4 linked regions of the Homo sapiens genome follow. The protein of the gene in region 1 purifies or fractionates together with the protein of each later gene. This does not show direct contact. Each region holds a gene or a part of one and is shown on either strand. Other genes may lie near its edges.

Region 1 (4,272 bases):
CAAAATTAGCCGGTATCCCAGCTACTTGGGAGGCTGAGGCAGGAGAATCACTTGAATCTGGGAAGCGGAGATTGTGGTGAGCCGAGATTGCCCCATTGCACTCCAGCCTAGGCAACAAGAGCGAAACTCTGTCTCAGAAAATAAAAAAAAAAGAAAGAAAGAAAGAAAAGAAAGACTGAGAGAAAGCAAGGAACTTGCCTGAGGTCTCATGGCTAATGGGGTCCAAGTCACAACCTGACTCTACCCCAAGCCAATTCCCACCTAACTCCTCCTGCAGATGCCCCTTGGTTATCCAGAGACTGTGTCTGGCCTTTAATATGGACTTGAGGTGTGATCCTGGGCTGGCTTCTTTCTGGACCTTGGTTTCTGAGTTTTTCGGTTGGTTGGTTCATTTGATTAATTGACAGGGTCTCACTCTGTCACCCAGGCTGGAGTGCAGTGGCCCCATCATGCTCACTGCACCCTCCAACTCCTGGGCTCAAGGAATGGTGCCACTGTGCTGATTTTTAAATTTTCTTTATTTTTGTAGAGATGGGGGTCTCACTGTGTTGCTCTGGCTGGTCTCCAACTCCGGGGCTTGAGCGATCCTCCTGCCTCCGCCTCCCAAAGCGCTGGCATTACAGGCGACAGCCATCGCGCCTAGCTGCGCTGGTAAAACTGGCTAACGCGATCTATCTTAATTAGCCACCCACAGCTGCTACCGCCGCCCCATCCCCAGGGACCACACAGACCCAGGGGACAAAGAAGGGCGCGGGAGACAGCGGCTGAGGAAGCCTTTACTGCGGGGCGGCCGGAGGATCGCCGAGCTCAGGGTCCCCCACCGCACCGCGCCCGGCCTCGTCCTCTGCCCCAGGCCCGGCCCCGCCCCCAGCCTCGGCCCCAGCCTCGGCCTTTGCCGGAACGTCGCCGAACACTTCCCGGTGCATGGCGGTGACGTAGTTGGAGCCGCTGGGGTCGTCCAGGCGCATCCGCAGCAGGGGCAGGAAGCGCTCGGTGGTGAAGTAGCGCAGGGTCGGCTTCGGGGCGCGCAAAGCGGTGAGGAAGACCTGCGGCGGCGGGAGGAGAGCTGTGGCCACCGCTGCGCGCCGGAGGACGCACCGCCCCCACTCCTGGAGTCCAGCCCGGCGCTCACCTCCGCCACCTCCTCAGGGTTCTGCGCCGCCTCGCGAAAGACTTGCTTGCTGTGGGCGAGGTATTGGTAGAAGCGGTGGAAGGTGTGGATGTCCGTGCGGTCCAGCACCTCCTCTGGGCTGCCCAACACCTTCTCCATGAAGGCGGTGTGCACTGGGCCGCACTCGATCAGGCTCAAGCTGCTGGCCGGAGAGCAACGAGTGGGAGGGGGCGGACGCCAGCCAGGCCCCAGTCCCAGCCCCAACCCCAGTCCCAGCCCCAACCACGTCCCGGCCCCCGACCGCGAGCAGCACCGCTGCGCTGGGAAGTGAGGCGGAAAGGGCGCTGGGGATAACCAGAACATTTGAAACGCGGGTTCCTGCCGGAGCAGCCCTCCCAAATCCATCTGAGGCTACAAGGGAGCCCTGGTGTCAGGATTCGAATCTAGCGGGGTCCCTGGCCGCTGTGTGACCTTGGGCCAGTCACCTAACCTCTCTGGGCTGGAGCTTCCCCATAACAATACCAACACTTCAGCAGCTAGGTCAGCAGGTGGCACAATGCGTGCCATGCGCCCAGCCCAAGTGCCTGGCACACAGCTAATGTGAGCCGGGCAGAGAGGGCCAGGGAGATCGCCCCAGAGCGGCTCCCGCAGGACAGGGTGCTCGGCGTCTCTAGGTCAGAGTTAAGAGGGTTCGGGGAACGGGGGTGTTGACTCACTGGACCCCAAAGGGCAGCAGCAGAACCGCCAGACTCTCGCATAAGCCTTCGAGCGCGAACTTGCTGGCGCAATAAACGTCATTGAAAGGCAGCCCTTAGGTGGGGAGACGAGGTTCCTGAGGCGCAGCGGCCAGGGGGTCATCCCCGGGCAGACGGTGCCCCTCCAAGCTGACGGCACCCCACTCCACCCCCCCCGCGGAACCTGCCTTCAAGGCTCAGCTCCGCACACAAAGAATCTGGAGCTGCCGAGGCCACTCCCTACCACTCACCCATCAATCCTCCCACGCTCCCGGTCACCAACACGCGTCCCGAACCGCGCCTCTTCATGTCTGGCAGGAAGGCCTGCAGCATCCGCACAGTCCCTACTACATTCACGTCCAGCACAGAGGCCACGGCGTCCTCCCCCAGCGCCTCCAGCGGCCCCAGCAGGCCCAGGCCTGCGTTACACACTGCGGAGACAAGAGGCCCGACCAGCCCGCCTCAGCATCACCCTCAGCACGGCCTGTCCCCTCGTGCTCCCTGGGCCTGGGAACATGTTGGTTTCAACGCAGGGCGGAGAAGGCTCCTAGGAGCCCATATGCTTCCAGGAGGCTCACCCAGCACGTCCACGCGGCCCTCAGTCACGCGTTCCCGGGCAGCGGCCACGGATTTTGAGTCCCTTACGTCCAGCTGCAACGTCTCCAGGGATCCCGGAGGGCATGCCAGGGCCCGGGCCGCCTCCCACAGCCGGCCCTGTGTTTTCAGGTCCCTCAACGTGGCATACACTGGAGGTTTTGGGAGAGGAGGAAGATCTGACTTCCCTTCTGGCCTCCAAGGGCTCCTCCCTTCTCTCCCTCCCTGTCCCTGCCTATCTATACCTTTGAAGCTCTGGGATGGATCTGAAGCCAGACGTACGGCCAAGTGCAGGCCGATGCCCGAGGAACAGCCGGTGATGAGCACCACGGTGCGGGCCATGGTGAGACTGTGGGGAGAGGCTGGGGCTCTGGGCTTGATATCACCTGCTTCGCCCCGCCCCGCCTGCGGGCCCCCACCCCTTGTTGTGTCTCCCACGCAATCTCAAGGATAAGCCTTCCTGCGGGTCCCTGGCCCGCTCTCCCCACCCTGTTCTGAGCCAAAACAGACATGAGCCCACTGCTTGGAACAACAAACTGTCCTGGTTGCTGGTCAGAGGGAGGGGAGGCTTTACAAGCAGGTGTGGGTTCCCACGTGGGCACAGAGTGGCCCCCTGGGCAGATTCCCCTGGGTATGCCTCTGTGCCACAGGAGCGATTATAGTGACCGCAGTTTGCTGCAGAGGCTGTGAAAGTAAAGGCGTTGGGAGGTGGGAGATGATTGTATATGTGCTGGTTTCGTCCAGGGTTCCTAGCTCATAACTCACATGACCATGGTTACAGTCTTACGTTGTCATGTTGGGGTGCCTCAGGCCTCAAAAAACAGCCTTTCGTCTCTCTGACCTTCTCCTGTCCTCTTTTCAGCTGCCCAAGGCAGGACTCTAATCTGATTGTGGGTTGTAGGATCCTCATTCCAGAGTGGGTCCTTGCCCCATACCCTGGAGAAAGGAATGCTGCACAAAGGCCCAAAGAATCTGGACTGGCCTTGCTGGGCTTAGATCAGACCCTTTTTGCCCAATCACATTATCACAGTTGTCCATGCTTCAGTCATGGACAGCCAATGGAGTTCTCCATAAAAGGCCCAAAGGACAGGGTTCGGGAGCTTCTGAGGGCTGAACGTGTGGAGGCTGACAGAATGTGCCCAGAGGGTGACGTAACCCCAACTCTATGGAGATAGAAGCTCCTGCTCTGGACCCTTCCAGACCGCCCTGTCTGTATCTCTTCATATGGCTGTTTATTTCTATCCTTTAAAATATGCTTTGAGGCTGGGCACGGTGGCTCATGCCTGTAATCCCAGCACTTTGGGAGGCCCAGGAAAGGGGATTGTTGGAGCCCAGGAGTTCAAGACCAGGCCAGGTAACAGAGTGAGACCCGGTCTCTGCAAAAAATATTAAAAAGCTTCCCAAGTAGCCGGGACTACAGGTGTGTGCCATCACTGCCACCATACCCAGCTAATTTTTTGACTTTTTTGTAGAGACGGGGTCTCACTTTGTTTCCCAGGCTTTTTTTTATTTTTGAGACAAAGTATTGCTTAGGTTGGAGTGCAGTGTCTTAATCTTGGCTCACTGCATCCTGCATCTGCCTGGTTCAGGCGATTCTCCTGCATCAGCCTCCCGAGTAGCTGGGATTACAGGCACCCGCCACCACGCCCAGCTAATTTTTAGTATTTTTAGTAGAGACGGAGTTTCACCATGTTGGCCAGGCTGGTCTCAAACCCCTGATGTCAAGCGATCTGCCCACCTCAGCCTCCCAAAGTGCTCGGATTATAAAAAAGTGCCACCCCACCTGGCCCTGTCATTTTTAGAAGATTATTTTATTTTGAGACGGAGTTTCGC
Region 2 (3,500 bases), on another chromosome or scaffold:
GCCAACTAAGTTTGAGAATAAAATTTCTAGAGTTAGCCTGGATATGGACCTCTTTTATGCAATGTCCAACCAATTAAATACTTGCTCAATTTTCCTTCTTAAGGACTGAACTCATGGGTGTTGGGTGTTGTAAATTCACAGAGGGACTCTGCATTGATGTGAAAAGAAAACGGGAGACGTGCACTTAAGGGATTCCTTCAAGAAAGGGCACTCCCCACCCTTTTTCTGCCTAAGGGAATTTGGTGATGTTTTATTGAGCTGAAATGAGGCAATCTGTCTGCATCATGGGTAGGATTGAGAATGAGGATGTTAACTGTGACTGTGACAGAACATGAGGCAACCAGAAAAAAATATATGGTTTAGGCAGAGATGAGACTTTGACACTTCTACAAAAGAAACAAACAAAAACTTCAATTTGGTAAGTCATAGTGCTAAAAATAGTAATAACTATTACCTGAGACAATTTCTCTTCCCCACAATTTCTCTTCCCCACACATTCTTTCATGTATTTATTTCTCAACTTTACTAAACACATCAAGTCCTCACCCTCCAAAATGACTACAGGAACTGTAAACTAGGTATTATCAATTGTCTGAAACTACTCAGAAAGGTTTCATTTCACTCAAATATGACTGATTTATTTCAAAAATTTAATTTTATTGTGGTAAGAACCCTTAAAATGAGATCCACTCTCTTAACAGATTTTTAAGAGTACAATGTAGTATTGTTAATTATGGGCACAATGTTGTACAGCAGATCTCTAGAACTTATTCATCTTGTATAACTGAAATTTTATACCCACTGTGCACCAACTTCCCTCTCCCCCCTCCCCAACATGACCGATTTTTAACACACATTTGTATCAAGGTAACAAATGTTTGTAAGAGATTTTTTTCCCCATTAAATACTTTATGGTCATGAACTGATAAGATGGGCTTGGTTTGCTTGGCAGGAATCCATTATGAAGCCTTATCTAGTCATGAAGCCTGCAGAGACTAACCATTCTAGCCTCTGCAACATACTTTTCAGTAGCTATATCACACTAATTTATATTCATAGAGCAGCTTTACCTCCAAGGCACTTTTACACTTATCTAATTTGTCCATGCAACATTCCTGTGAGACAGACCAGGACAGTTATTATGAATTCAGTTTAACAGATGGAGAAGCCAAGGTACAGAATGTTCAAAAGATATGACAAATATCATAAAATCACTGACCCAGCCAAGGCCAGAAGTTGAATTTCCTGATTTCTAGTATGCCGCTCTAGTCAACTGATATTCTGCCTTTGACCTCATTAACATCACTTATCATCCCTAAGCGACCACATGGTAATTGTTGGTAAGCATCAGACACCAGACTTCCAGGCAGATTATTAACAGGAGAAGTCATAGCAATGAGTATCGCAAAGTCACAGCATTTTTAAAATTCTGACAATAACATAAACCTTGCTATTCAATAACTATCTCCCACTGTAAATTCTTTGTCACCATATTGATGTTTACTCAGAATCAGCACCTAATTCTGCAAGAGTCACAAAAGGAGAAAGGCTCTTGATGAGTGATTAAAAATTTTTACGTGGGGTGTAAGAGGGTATTTTCTAGCCCTACTTTTTGTTAACTTGTTTCTTATTAATAACATGATGCCATTTTGTATAAGCTAGTACATATCATTCTCTTAAGTTTGAGATAGGCAGTTTATTATTATTATTTTTAAAACTTTAGGGTACCATAATTTTGTTATGACTAATAAGGAATGCCTTTGTTTACTAATTCCTGCCAGAAAAGAAAGGCTACAGATCACCTATTCTGTAATCGAATATATTACTTTTGGTAAGTGGTCCATCATTTTCAACTGACTTATAAAATAACAATCCTATTCAACGAGTTCCTTCATCTAATTTTCTCAGTGTATGTTTGGCAAGTAGTTTATCAGCAAAGATAAACCAGGAATCACACTGCTCAAAGCCAGACAAAGTTTGATGAGTGCCCTGTGTTTTTCCGCCAGGTGGGCAACTGGTTATACACGCATGAAAAATCTTCCAGGCTCAATTTACTGTGACCATAACACAGAGCATGGTAGAGCTTTGGGGTTTCATGCTACTCTCTGGCTGCACATTAAAACAGATTCAAAGCCATTTACTAGGGTGAGTTTTTTACTAGGGCACATCTTTAGCTCATCCATAAGGCTGGAGGACTCTTGAGGCTAGTATTCTTATTTGGCTTCTCAGTTTTCAAAGAAGTCAATCCAACTTCAAACTGCATTCTGTTAAAGCATAAGTGTTGGTATGTACCTGGAACAAAATGAAAAGCTCTGCTCCTGGAACATGTCTATCAATGCTATCAAATATTTGACAAAGTTCATCTGAGAAGAAAAAAAGACATTTAAGAATAACTGACCAAGGAAAATACATTCCATTTGCCAGATTTTCTAAAATATGTATTGAGTTCAAGTCAGATCATCAGAAAACTGGGTTCTGTGAATCACAGCATATTGGGCCTGCTGCACCCCGCAGGATTATTCCTTTTATGAACGGTGCTTGTTGTGATACATGAACCTGTACTGGTAGTTGTTACAGGACACAGCTCTATGAAATTCACCCTTGCTCTTCCTGCAAGTTGTTGCTGGAGTGTTGTTAGATCTCATCCAGCGTCACTTTCACATGGTCTCATTCAGAAAAATTCCTCCCTGATTTCTGCAGCAAGAACTATTATGCTTTTCCTCAGCAGTAGTCTTATTTTTATCTTATTGTAAATTGCAAAACTACCTTTCATTTTTGGTAGACTACTAGAAGGCCTAAAGCCAGATTTACAGTCTAACCAGAGGCAAGTGGGCAGGTCATTATTTTAGTATCGTCCAGTCTCGACGTTAGCTTCATTTTTAACGAGCCTATCGATGAATTTCATTCTTTTTCCCCTTTTGTAATTTATAAGATTATCTTATATTTCACATACCTGTAAAAGTCTTTTTACAAACTTGCTGGAATATAGTTCACTATAAATACATAAATTAAAACTACAGTCCATTAAAAGGATGACTTTAAAATATTTCATTAGTTCCTTTCAAATAGCAAAAGGAATTTTAGACAGTAAAGAAATTCCCACTGCACCTTTAAAAAACAAGCTGAAAATGACCCTTGCTCCTCTCAGATCTCCTTTCTTAAACAAGCATGCTCAGGGCAACTACTGGCCTAACTTGATACTTCTTGGCTGTCCTGAAAGAGCATCTTTCTCCATCAATGCCCTTGAAATTATGCACAGATTAAACAATAAAATTAATCTTTCACATATAGCAAAGTGTTTTCTTCTCTGTGTCAGCAAAGACTAATTTAACAAATTCATTAACACAGGATTAACACTAAAGAAGTTCTTCTTGTTCCAGGTAGGATTGGGTTTCCATTTGTGAACAGGAATGACAGGCCTAGATAACTGCAGAGTGGAATTAAGTATTCAGCTATCTCTTCTAGTATTCGATGTCCTGTGAGCCCTTACTAAGTACATG
Region 3 (3,500 bases), on another chromosome or scaffold:
AGGTTTTCACTTGAGGTCTCACTCCCTCCGTGGGAAGGCTGATTTTCTCCCATTCTAAGAATAACAATAAATAAAAAGTATCTTAGCTGCTTTCCGTGGAAGTCCAAACAGGTTTACTATGAGGCTAAACGCCCAGGCACACTGTCCTTCAAATTTCTAATTATCTACTGAAGTATAACCACCACTTAAGTGGCTATCAAAGCCCTATAAACTCTAATTAGTGGCCGGGCGTGGTGGCTCACACCTGTAATCCCAGCACTCTGGGAGGCCAAGGCGGGTGTATCACCTGAGGTCAGGAGTTCGAGAGGAGCCTGACCAACATGGTGAAACCCTGTCTCTACTAAATACAAAAAAATTAGCCGGGCATGGTGGCGCATGCCTGTAGTCCCAGCTACTTGGGAGGCTGAGGCAGGAGAATTGCTTGAACCCGGGAGGCACAGGTTGCAGTGAGCCAAGATTGCGCCACTGCACTCCAGCCTGGGCAACAAGAGCAAAACTGTCTAAAAAAAAAAAAAACCAGAAAAACTGTAATTAGTCACCAGTGACTCCTGACAGCAAATACAGACGCTGTATCTCCCTTCCTAACTCCAAGAAGCCAGAACACAATTACCTCACTTTTCTTTTAGTAAACATCATAGAAACCTCATTTTACTCTAAGTTGTGACTTAGAGTGACTACATGGATACACTCCCATTACAACCTCAGTCTCAAGTTTCCTCTCACTGAACTTTCATTAATATGCAAATTTCTTCCCTTTTTTTTTTCTTTGAGAGTAGCTGGGATTACAGGTGCGTGCCACCACGCCCAGCTCATTTTGTATTTTTAGTAGAAATGGGGTTTCTCCATGTTGGTCAGGCTGGTCTCGAACTCCCGACCTCAGGTGATCCGCCTGCCTTGGCCTCCCAAAGTGCTGGGATTACAGGCTTGAGCCACTGTGCCCGGCCCTGGAATTTCTTCCCTTTCTTAAAAGCTGCTTTTGGCGGGGCGTGATGGCTCATGCCTGTAATCTCAGCACTTTTGGATGGCTGAGGCGGGAGGATTGCTTGAGCCCAGGATTTCGAGACCAGCCTGGGCAACACGGCAAAACCCGTCTCGACAAAATATACAATTTTTTAAAGCTGCTTTTTTCGGGGGTCAATGTTCTTTCTCAGGGGTCTCTTGAACTGCCTTAGGCCCCAAGCTCAAAGATCCTTTTTTTTTTTTTTTTTTTGAGACAGAGTATTGCTCCTACTGTCGCCCAGGCTGGAGTGCAATGGCGCAATCTCGGCTCACTGATACCTCCGCCTCCTGGGTTCAAGTGATTCTCCTGCCTCAGTTTCCGAAGCAGCTGGGATGTACAGGTGTGCACCACCACACTTGGCTATTTTTTTTCTAATGTAAGTAGAGACAGGGTTTCACCATGTTGCCCAGGCTGGTCTTGAATGCCTCAGTTCAAGTGATCCGCACCTCGGCCTCCCAAAGTGCTGGGATTACAGGCGTGAACCACTGTGCCCGGCCAGACCAAAGGTCTTAAGGCTCTTCCAGAATCCTCTCCAGAGCTTCTCAAGCTTTCCAGGAATAAGTACCTTTGGGGAAAGGAGGGGCAGAGCTCATAAATACTCCCTAATCTTTTTGGAAGAATCCCCTGAGGCACTTGTTAAATATGCACTCCACCGGGCTTCTCCACAGGAAACTGATCAAGCAGAGGGCTGAAAGGCCAGAAATCTGCATTTTAACAACTGTCCCAAATGATTCTGCCTCTACCCCTTTTCCTAAGATGCTTGCCACAGCTCCTGCATGCGAGCGCCACCTTCTTCCAGGCATTGTGTGTGTGGTCTTCTCTGCCTGCCCCCACCACCCCGCAAACTGTCCCCTTCCAAAACACCCTCCTTTTTCACCTATTAGAAGCAAAGCATTTCTTGACAAATTCAGCCACACTGATTTCTTTCTTCTCAACTCCCACTGCAATTAGTCATGTCACCTTTTACATGTACTATTCAATAAAGCTTGTGGATAAATTGCTATCAATTGATCTTATTCATTTGTTCTAGGTAAAGTCTAGTGTTGAGACAGCAAGCAAGGTTAAATGATTTACAAATGTTAAGTGTGTGGAATGTGAATCTGGAGCCATGGTTATTAACCCCAAAGAACCCCAGTTCACCATGTTTAAACTGTTGCCATTGAATGCTAACAGAAAAATCATACATTAGTTTTCCCACAAGGAAAGCAATTTATTCCATAGCAGCTTGATAATGACAAGCTTTCCCGTTTCTTCTCTCTCATAAGCAGTTTACTCACATAGTTAAAGGACATATTAAATAAAGCTGCCTTCTCAAATGAGCTGGTGGCATTTGCCTATAAATTGTACCATGAAAAAAAGCAAATGTTCTAATGGTAGAGAACAGTAGTTCAGCCAGCTCTTCATTCTCTGAGGAGGAGGGATGTGGAGGATAGCATTTATAAATCCACAGATGACTTCCAACTGCGTTTCATCCAGTACAGTAACTGTGGCAACTGCTACTTCTTAGGGGGGCTGCTATCCTTGAGAAAAGAAAGCCAAACACCGAGATCATCCCTAGGGTCACCTTTTAATTCTAACAACCTGGAATCTGATAACTCCAAAGGGACTGTACTTATCTTCCCAATAACTACCAATTGCCAAGGGGCATAAGTTATGCAGGAACTGATTAGCAAATGTGGACAGCTGTCGGGACTCACTACTCCCCACCACAAGGCTCAGGAGTGGAGAGGAGCTTTTGGCCCCTTCAATGTCTCTCTCACATATGGGTGCCAGATGTCCAAATTTGAGGGCATAGAAGAACAATCTGGAGTTATTCTTTTTGTCATTTCATTTGGTTATGTGGAATCCAGGGCCCATCATGAATGACTCAGACTTAATAGGTCTACAGTAGGATCCAAGAATCTGCATTTTAAAAAAGCACTTCATAGGCTGGGCGCAGTGGCTCACACCTGTAATCCCAGCACTTTGGAAGGCCAAAGCAGGTGGATCACCAGAGCTGGGGAGTTTGAGACGAGCCCGGGCAACACGTTGAAATCCTGTCTCTACTAAATACAAAAATTAGCCCGGCACAGTGGCGTGTGCCTGTAGTCACAGCTGCTCAGGAGGCTGAGACAGGAGAACTGCTTGAGCCTGGGAGGTGGAGGTTGCAGTGAGCAGAGGTGGCGCCACTACACTCCATCCTGGGCAACAGTGCGAGAGAACCTTGTCTCAAAAAAAATAAAAATAAAAATTAAAATTAAAAAGCACTTAGTGCTGGGTCTGAGGCTCTTTGGAAAACAATGTCCATTTTTGCAAAGTGCCTCTTCTCTCACCCTTCCTCATCTGTGTGTGTCTCATGCCTTTCTGCATTTACTCCTGCTTTTTCCAAACAAAACGCTTTATAGTAATCTCTTCCAATCCTAACCATGCTTCAAGAGCCAGCTGAAATGCCACCCATTTCTAGAAGCCCAAAAGGGACTTCCTGCTTTCCTGCACCCTTGTGCCATTTCCAAGTCAAGAG
Region 4 (3,500 bases), on another chromosome or scaffold:
ATAAATACTAGCCTCGATTACATCGTGCAAGGCCCATGTCTGTGGGTCTTAACCCTTCCCCTTGACTGTAATCTCCTTAAGGGGAGGACTTGGGTCTGAGGCCCTTTGTTACCCACAATACCTGGCAATGTGTAGGTACTGGGACATATTTGCTAACAGCCTGACCAACTGGCTAATGACTGCTTCTCTCATGTTCCAAACAGGCACGCTCCTTCTCTTTTTTTTTTTTTTTTAAATGAAGCTTTGCTCTTTTTGCCCAGGCTGGAGTGCAATGGCACAATCTCGGCTCACCACAACCTCTGCCTCCCGGTTCAAGCAATTCTCCTCCCTCAGCCTCCTGAGTAGCTGGGATTACAGGCATGTGCCACCATGCCTGGCTAATTTTTGTATTTTCAATAGAGATGGGGTTTCTCCATGTTGGTCAGGCTGGTCTCGAACTCCTGAACTCAGGTGATCCACCCGCCTCGGCCTCCCAAAGTGCTGGGATTACAGGCGTGAGCCACTGCGCCCGGCCTACTCCTTCTCTTTCTCTTTCTTTCTTTCTCTCTCTCTCTTTTCTTTCTTTTTTCTGAGACAGGGTCTCACTCTGTTGCCCAGGCTGGAGTGCAGTGACGCAATCGTGGCTCACTGCAGCCTCCACCTGCCAGGCTCAAGTAAGTCTCCTACCTTAGCCTCCTGAGTAGTGAGGACTACAGGCATGTGCCACCACACCTGGATAATTGTTTTGTAACTTTTTTGTTTTAGAGATGAGGTCTCACTATGTTGTCCAGGCTGGTCTTGAACTCCGGGGCTCAAGTGATGTGCCCACCTTGGCCTCCCAAAGTGCTGGGATTATACACCCTCTTTTTCTAATTGACAAATTTCAACTTATTTTTCATGGCACAATTGCAATGTGACCTCCTCCTGTCCTGGCAGGGTGCATCACTCCCTCCTCTGGCTTGTACTGCACTTTGGGCATAAGCACTCGTTTGTTCATGCATTCATGAATTCAGGAGACATTTATTAAGCACCTACTGTTGTGCCAGCTCTGTGCTGGGCACCTACAGTTTGGCAGTTGCCTGACTTTCCCCCCAGCCAGTTAGTTCCCCTGGGGTTGAGCCCGTGTTGAGTGGCCACTGCCTGGCCTGGGGAAGACTTAGTGGAGACAGATATACCTTGTCCAGGTCCAACTTGCACAGGAGGACTGGGGATCTGGGGACCTCCACTCCCTCAGCTCCCCCAACTGGCTTGCTCACTTCTCGGATGACCTGTGAAGAGGACACACAGCTGTGAACGGGTGGGCAGGGAAGCTGTTGATGCAAAGGAAGAATGGGGACTGTGTGGTGAATGCTGTAGAACAGAGGGTCAGGGCCACTGTGGGGAACAGATGGACTGACACAGCTACCTGCATATGTGTGGGGCACATGGGTTTGTAAAGGCTTTCTCCCATATCTGTCCCCTGGGCTGAAAAGATACAAGGATGGGGACCAAGAGGCTTATTGCTAATTAGTTGTGTGGTCTTGGAAGAGCCACTTCCCTGCTCTGGGCCTCAGTGTCCACATCTGCAACATGGGAATATACTAGTCCTCTGCTTCCCTCCTTGGGTTGCCTGAGGACAGTGTGACCATGGATGCGAAGAGTGATGGGAACCATAAAGCCTCACAAGCATGAGGGACCTGCTTCTGTGACCATGTGCACCTTTACAGCAACCTGTAGGGTAGCTGGAGTTATCACCTCCATCTCCTAAAGGCATCCGCTCACTTGCCAAGGCCACACAGCAATAAGCATGAGATCAGGGAATAATCACAGCTACCATTTGTTGCTCACCTAATTGGTGGCTTTCTGTGGATTATCCCATTTTATCCCCCACCAGCCTTGTAAGCCCTGAGTTACAGCTTAAGATGATGAGCCTCGCAGAGGGGAAGCCACCTGTTAGGTGGCAGCAGAGCCAGAAACTAAATGCAGGCAGTTCAGCTGCCCACTGTTAACCTCTGGGCTAACGGCCGCCCAGGATCAATGTCAAGGCAAGTCTCTTTTAACTCCAGTCTAGGGATTCGTCTGCCGACCCAACCAGCTCGTGGAGGGTACAGGCTCCCCCAACAGGCAGGTTCTCTCCCTTCTTTCCCTCCTGAGACAAAGGGGTAATGAGAAACACCAAATGTTCCATCATGGGGGCTGGTTATCACAGGAAGGAAGGGGCTGGGTAGAGAGGGAGGTGTTTGGTTTCATTGTTCCAGCAGGAAGATCAGAGGAGGAAAGGATGGTGTCAGAGTGAAGTAGAGGCGGTGCAAGGATGAGGTCTGCTGTAAAGGAATGGGGGGTGGGGCATCGCAGTCATCACAACAGTAGTTACTGACAGTTACCACACACTCACTGCCTGGCAGGCGCTGTGCCAAGTGCTCTCCAGAATCCTTCCAAGGACCATTTCACAGATGAAAAAAACAGGCACAGAGGGTCAAAGTCATTTGCAGAAGGTCACACAGCCAGTAAGTGCCCTTTAGGCCTGGGGCTTGCACTCCAGTATGGGTGCCACAAAGTCCCCTCTCCCATGTCATCACTATGTCATCCTGCCTATGGCCTTTGGAGTAGATTTACTACTTAGCTTCAAATTCTGGCTCCCACCACTTTGGTTGTGTGACGTTTGGCAAGTCACATAAGTTCTCAAAGCTGTGTCTTAGTTTCCTCATCTGCGAAATGGGAACAATAATATTTTGTCCCATTTTCAAGCAGAAATGAGGTCACGTATGTAAAGCTCTTGGCACAATGCATGGTACAAAGTAAGTGCTCATTTTGTGGTGACTCTCATTGTTCTGTGTAGCTGCAGAGGCAGAAACTGGCCCATGGGTGGTCATTATAAGGATGTACGTTTCAAGGCAAGGAAGGATTTTTCCTTTGTTGTTGTTGTTTTAAGAATTCACTGGTCTAATGATGAAATCAGCTTCCTTTGTACATACTAAGCCTCCAGTTCCAGGAGGTATACAAGTGCAGGCTGAATAAGCCCACAGTAAGGATTTGGAAAGGGAATTCAAATAACCAGAAGGGACACAGGTCTCCAGCATGAAGTCTGCCTCTTGGAGATATCCGAGGCCCATTTCCATACATAAGCCCTAGCCACGCAGAGGGCACTTGGGCTCAGGCACTGAGCAAGAGGCTCTTCCAGGGACAGGAGCCAGCTCTACTGAGGGCTGGCTTGGGGAAGAGAGAAAGGGTGAGAAGGCGGGAAGGTCAGGTGCAGGCCACGCACCTTCAGCCACTCCTCGGCCTGCTCTCGGCTCTGCAGTGCCAGCACCAAGACCTCGGTAGCCCCCTGGGTGAAACGCAGCTCGTGCCTCTTGTGCCGGCTGTCCTTGGGCACGTAGATGATGCTGCAGGTATCCAGTGCCAACCTCAGATGTGGCTGCCGATCCTTGGAGCTTTTGTAACACTGGACAGGGAGAGAAACACATCAGGATCTTCTGAAGTAGAGGGTAGAGGAGGGAGACATCCTCACACAAAGGCTCGGGGGAAGCCCGACCTCCCTT

Evidence for each region. The genes of interacting proteins can lie anywhere in the genome.
Region 2: the proteins of HSD17B1 (region 1) and PDLIM5 purify together in Homo sapiens (affinity purification with mass spectrometry; one large-scale study listed by BioGRID and IntAct). This does not show direct contact.
Region 3: the proteins of HSD17B1 (region 1) and NOCT purify together in Homo sapiens (affinity purification with mass spectrometry; one large-scale study listed by BioGRID and IntAct). This does not show direct contact.
Region 4: the proteins of HSD17B1 (region 1) and AFAP1L1 purify together in Homo sapiens (affinity purification with mass spectrometry; one large-scale study listed by BioGRID and IntAct). This does not show direct contact.

Annotation. Positions count from the first base shown.
Region 1 is NC_000017.11:42,551,443-42,555,714, reverse strand, and holds HSD17B1 (17-beta-hydroxysteroid dehydrogenase type 1), read right to left. Parts: upstream 2,793-4,272; 5' UTR 2,782-2,792; coding exon 2,685-2,781; exon of another isoform or gene 2,592-2,684; coding exon 2,424-2,591; exon of another isoform or gene 2,277-2,423; coding exon 2,097-2,276; exon of another isoform or gene 1,922-2,096; coding exon 1,828-1,921; exon of another isoform or gene 1,314-1,827; coding exon of another isoform or gene 1,311-1,313; coding exon 1,133-1,310; exon of another isoform or gene 1,047-1,132; coding exon 777-1,046; 3' UTR 501-776; downstream 1-500. UniProt on the Homo sapiens protein: Favors the reduction of estrogens and androgens. Converts estrone (E1) to a more potent estrogen, 17beta-estradiol (E2). Also has 20-alpha-HSD activity. Uses preferentially NADH.
Region 2 is NC_000004.12:94,650,942-94,654,441, reverse strand, and holds part of PDLIM5 (PDZ and LIM domain protein 5), read right to left. Parts: intron 1-3,500. UniProt on the Homo sapiens protein: May play an important role in the heart development by scaffolding PKC to the Z-disk region. May play a role in the regulation of cardiomyocyte expansion. Isoforms lacking the LIM domains may negatively modulate the scaffolding activity of isoform 1.
Region 3 is NC_000004.12:139,018,781-139,022,280, reverse strand, and holds part of NOCT (nocturnin), read right to left. Parts: intron 1-3,500. UniProt on the Homo sapiens protein: Phosphatase which catalyzes the conversion of NADP(+) to NAD(+) and of NADPH to NADH. Shows a small preference for NADPH over NADP(+). Represses translation and promotes degradation of target mRNA molecules.
Region 4 is NC_000005.10:149,309,859-149,313,358, reverse strand, and holds part of AFAP1L1 (actin filament-associated protein 1-like 1), read right to left. Parts: intron 3,404-3,500; coding exon 3,224-3,403; intron 1,248-3,223; coding exon 1,155-1,247; coding exon of another isoform or gene 1,041-1,154; exon of another isoform or gene 984-1,040; intron 1-983. UniProt on the Homo sapiens protein: May be involved in podosome and invadosome formation.